Regions from separate parts of the Homo sapiens genome. Here region 1 is linked to region 2. A link means that fine-mapping ties the variant in region 2 to the expression of a gene that starts in the linked region. Tissue or cell type: spinal cord. Region 2 holds a variant in brackets; the other region holds the start of a gene. All regions are shown on one strand. Distances are from middle to middle.

Region 1 (2,692 bases), 520 kb after region 2:
AAGAGACGAAGGGAATTTGCAGGTGTACAGGTAGAATGAGACATTTAGGAAACACATTTTCAACAGTATATTTTTTAGGTTCATTTGAAGAGGTCACAGTGAGCCTATCAGTAATAGTTAACAGGGGTCATTGCTCGTATGGATGTGCATGATAATGTGGGCCTAAAACACAGCCCAGCCCATCTGATCTTCCCTTATATAGGTAAGTGGTGGTGTCCCTAACACTTCTGTTACTATGATTTTGTTGTAGCTGTTCAAGTAAGAAATGATAGAGCTCTTACCAATTTAAAAAAACATTATTTTTCTCACTTTTTATATTTTAGAATAACTTTATGATTAACCTCTGAGTTTTGAGTGATAGTGCCTATCCTGGTTATTGGTGTTTCTTACCACAGCAGTAACCAGGGGATTTTTACAGGTGTCCTGTCAAGAAATGACCGTCTTACCTGACAGTGGTATTGATCTTGCATTATTACAAGTATCCAGGTAGAGTTTATGTGTTCTGTAATGATGGAGTGACGAAGGTTATTTTCAGATGTCTTGGTGGAAATGTTTGTGTCCTTTAACACATATTTCACAATGTGTATTTCAGGTTTCTGTAGTGAGACCCTGATAAACCTAACAATGGTTGGTATGGCAGACATTTCTGGTATGCAGGCAAGTGATGATGTGTTCTTTAACCACATCATAGACCATCAGATCTTCTTATATCTTTTTTTTTTTTTTTTTTGACAGAGTCTCGCTTTGTCACCCAGGCTGGAGTGCAGTGGGGTGATCTCGGCTCACTGCAGCCTCCACCTCCCAGGTTCAAGCGATTCTCGTGCCTCTGCATCCTGAATAGCTGGGATTACAGGTGTGCACCACCACATCCTGCTGATTTTTGTATTTTGAGAGATGGGGTTTTGGCACGTTGGCCAAGCTGGTCTCGAACTCCTGGCTTCAAGCAGTCCACCCACCTTGGCCTCCCAAAGTGCTGGAATTACAGGCGTGCACCACCACGCCCGGCCAGATCTTCATATATCTAAGTAAGTGTTATACATTTACCTAAACTTTTTTACTGTGTGATTTTTTTCCATAGGTACTCAAGTAAGAAATGATAGTCTTTACTAACTACAGCAACCATGTTATCCTGCTGTTTTATATTTTAGAGAAAATTTATGTTTAACTTTGTGATTGGCGAGCTATTTGCTATCCAAGGAATTAACCATGGAGTTGCATGTCATAGTAGCAATTGTGGGTTTGTTTGCAGGTAAGTAGTAGAGAGAAAATGGTATCTGTAACAGTGCTATAGACCTTGCAGTACTGCAAGATTCCAGGTATACTTGATGGTTCTTGGAATGATGGTAGTGAATAAGCTTAATTGTGGGGTTCAAGGAAAAAAGCTGTGTCTACACACATTTGTCATAATGTGTTTTTAGGATCCTGTCAAGAAGACATGGTAAACCTCATCATGATCAAGAATGAGACTTTGCTTGCATCCAGGTAAGTAATGACGTGGGCCTTAAGCAAGCACTCAGAAAACAATCTGATCATCAGATCTATAATTAAGTGTGGATGGTGCTTCTAACTTTTGTGTTACCATGGTTTTTTTGCAGGCATTCAGTTAAGAAATGATGTTTTCCCAACCAAGGCTAGTAAGCATTAGCCCTTATTATTTTACAGTTTAGATATAATGTGTAGTATCTAACCAAGCTGGGCATAGTTGCATGTGCCTATAGTATGAGCTACTCTGGAGGCTGAGGCGGGAGGATCACTTGAGCCCAGGAGGTTGAGGCTGAAGTGAGCTGTGATCACACCACTGCACTCCAACTTGGGTAACAGGACAAAACCCTGTCTCTTAAAAAAATAAAAGAGATATAATGTGTGTTTAACATTAGTCTCTAAGGAGGGCTATGCCGGTATCCAGGTGAGTTATCCTACTCTTCCACATTATAGTATGAACAATGAGATTTCTAAGTCAAGCGATGATGGTATCTCTAACATTAGTGTTGATCTCAAAGTTCTACTAAGATCGAGGTAGTGTTGGTGGTTCCTCTAATGAGGAAAATGACTGATACAAGTTGCAGGTGCCCCGTCCTTTTTTGCAGGTAAAACAGCGTGTTTCATTAAACACATTCATCATTGAATGTGTTTCTTCAGGTACCCATAGTCATGAAATCATAGTGAACCTAACAGTGGTCATTTATGTGTTCTTGGTAGTAACCAGGTCAGTGATAAATTGGGTCTTACCACACTACAGACCACCTGTTCTTCAGATTTTTAGGTAAGCAAGTATGGTCCCTCTAACACAGTGTTACTGTGTTTGTCTTTTTCAGGCTTCCCAAAAGTTGTTTGATAGTATACAGGCATGAGATGGTGTGACTCTAACTCATTAGATGCCTTCGTCTTTTCAGTCATGTAAGTAATGAATGGTGTTTTCAAGGCCGTTACATAAACCTTGTTTATGGCATGTATGCAGTTTAAAAATTAAATTATCCCTACTACTAACAGGAACCATGAGTTTTTAATGTATTTTTCTTTTGAGATAATGTGTATTTAACACTTGTACTGATAGACATATATGCAGGTATCTTGCTATTTTATCATATTGCTCATCACCACATTATTGGCCATGGGATTTTTGGAGGTATCTGTCAAAGAGTAGACGGTGCCTCTTCCTATAGTTTGACTTTGTAGTTCTGCCCTTATCTAG
Region 2 (2,692 bases):
GTCAGGAGTTCGAGACCAGCCTGGCCAACATGGAGAAACCCTGTCTCTACTAAAAATACAAAATTAGCCAGGAGTGGTGGTGCATGCCTATCACCCCAGCTACTCAGGAGGCCGAGGCAGGAGAATCACTTGAACCCAGGAGGCAGAGGTTGCAGTGAGCCGAGATTGTGCCATTGCACTCCAGCCTGGTCAACAAGAGTGAAACTGTCTCAAAAAAAAAAAAAAAAAAGAAAAGAAAAGAAACACTGGTTGTGTTGTGAAAATCCTCAGAAATAGGGAGGGGAGCCTGGAGCACCTAACTGCCCTTCCCACTGCCTTCTCAGCCCCAGAGAGTGTCCCCTCTGTCCTTCATCAGAGCACGCGAGGAGCTCCATTCCTGGTCGTCATCTGAGGATGACACAATGAGTAGGACTAGGACTTTAAAACTAGTGTGTGGAGGTTATATCCTCCATGTACTGCGTCTTAAGTTGGGCCATGTGTGTATTGGTCCCCAAAGCATTTTTTCAGCTAAATTGCATAATGACTGTTATTTTAAAAACTGGAAAAGGAAAATCTTAATGTTACATTATACCTGTGGCATTGTCTTGAAATAAGTTTCACCATTTAAATCCACTCTTCACAGGAAAATCTGAAATGCCCCAGGCTCACCAGCAAGCGAGGCCTGCCCACTTTCTCTTCCTGTTGGCAGCTCAGCTCCTCCTGAGCTAGTGATTTTTTTTTTTAAAGAGATGGGATCTTGCTATGTTGTCCAGGCTGTATTCGAACTCAGACGCAAGCCATCCTTCTACCTGCGACTCCTGAGTAGCTGGGCCTACAGGCACGATGCCATGCCTGGCACCATTGATGTCTGAGCATTTGCCTTAGATGAGCAGAGGAGCTGGACTCACAGTTTAAAGTCTCCTTAGACCTTGAATGCAATGAAGCCCATCCTGACTAGCCTACATATTAGATGGCTGTATTAACCAGGACTTTTGTCCCCACTATCTGTGCCACAAACTGGGCAAATAGTAGTTCCTAAATAACTTACTTTAAGTTGTACCTGTCATGGTTTTAAAATGCTACCCACAAATACTAACAAACTGAATATCAAATTCTTACCCAGTAGTTCTATCCAGTGGCCAGGGTGCCCTGACGGTCATTCCTAGCTGCCCCAATTGCAAGGTCCGCCATTAGCACATTTCTCCCTGTGGATTGCTAAGTGCCTGCCCCAGACCATGCCTGGGCTGATCAAGAGAGGCCTGATTCTTGCATCATCTCTCGGGTGTGGTTGCCTGCTACATTCCCAAAATACAACTTTAAAGGCGAGATCTCTAGTTGACTGTATGAACATGTTCATTTGTGCCTTTGCCAGGGTTACATCAATTGCAGACAGGTTGAATGTGGAATTTGCTTTGATCCACAAAGAGAGGAAGAAGGCGAATGAAGTGGACCGGATGGTCCTGGTGGGCGACGTGAAGGACCGTGTGGCCATCCTCGTGGATGACATGGCTGACACTTGCGGCACCATCTGCCATGCTGCGGACAAGTACGCAGGGCGGTGGGGAAAGCGTTAGGACTTCTCACTAGGAAAGGGAAACACATCAGCTTTTAGAAATTGGGCTCTTTTTTCCTGATTATTGCCGGTCTTGGCAGTGGAGTTTTAGACCAAAGGAGATTCTAGGCCCTTTTATCTTTATA[C/T]TTCTTTCTCTGGTAGAAAAGAAAGCACGGGCCTTTTCGTTTTCCAGGGTGAGCTTGTAGTGTACCTGGAAAAAGGTCAAAGAAGGTGCTTCCCTTTGCACTGAGCACGACAGGAAAGATGGTTTTTCGGGCTTCTTCAGGCCCTAGCTTCCTTCCATTTGGCTTTCGTGCCAGCCTTCTCAGCCACATGGGTGTCTGGAGGATTTGTAGAGCTGCTGCCCAGTATGGAAGCCCCCACCCAGCCACACGTGGCCGTGGAGCTCTTGGAATATGGCCAGTCTGACTTGAGATGTGCTGAGAGTATAAAAAGGCCACTAGGTTTTGGAGACTTAATATGAAACAATGAATATATATCTCATTTACATATATGTTTTTATGTTGATTACACATCAAAACAATGATGTTTGGCTATATTGGTTTAAACAGGTGGTTCTCAACCAGGAGTGATTTTGCTCCCTGGGAGACATGTGGCAATGTCTAGAGACATTTTTTGTTGTCACGGCTGAGGGGTGGGTTGTCGTTAGTGGGTAGAGGCCAGGGATGCTGTTGAATTTTCCCATAATGCGTAGGACAGCCCCCGTGACAAAGAATTATCCTGGCTCAAGTGCCAAGGTTGATAGTCCCCGATTTAATGGAATACAAAGTGTTTTGCTCATGCTTGAGTGATCCTATCTTAGGTTAATAAATGTGAGTGAAATTTGTTGCATTTTTCTTTTACGGAGCACACTTTGTGCTTTTACCATTCATACTAGGGGAGAGTATTCCAAGAATATTTGCATACCCTTAATTTTTATCTTCTGCTGTTCTACAGGCTGCTGTCAGCTGGAGCCACCAAAGTGTATGCTATCCTTACCCATGGGATCTTCTCTGGACCAGCTATTTCCAGAATAAATAATGCCGCCTTTGAGGCTGTTGTCGTCACAAACACAATTCCGCAAGAGGACAAAATGAAACACTGCACCAAGATTCAGGTACTGTCTATACACCAAAGGCAGCCAAGCAGCCAGGCACCTAC

What was found. PIP is the estimated chance that this variant, and not a neighbour inherited with it, causes the effect.
Region 1: it holds the start of LINC01203, and the variant in region 2 is the best candidate, but not a certain one, in a credible set for the expression of LINC01203 in spinal cord (GTEx, PIP 0.60).

What each region holds. Positions count from the first base shown.
Region 1 is chrX:13,334,064-13,336,755 of GRCh38, forward strand. It overlaps LINC01203 (long intergenic non-protein coding RNA 1203), which reads left to right and starts at 1,178. Exons shown (of 7, transcript NR_045260.1): 1 at 1,178-1,249; 2 at 1,419-1,482; 3 at 1,596-1,634; 4 at 2,316-2,397.
Region 2 is chrX:12,818,156-12,820,847 of GRCh38, forward strand. It overlaps PRPS2 (phosphoribosyl pyrophosphate synthetase 2), which reads left to right. Exons shown (of 7, transcript NM_002765.5): 5 at 1,352-1,525; 6 at 2,489-2,648. Among named protein-coding and RNA genes, the nearest start is that of PRPS2, 28 kb to the left of the region's middle. RefSeq lists an enhancer at 1,652-2,692. The variant C/T (reference allele first, on the strand shown) is at 1,678.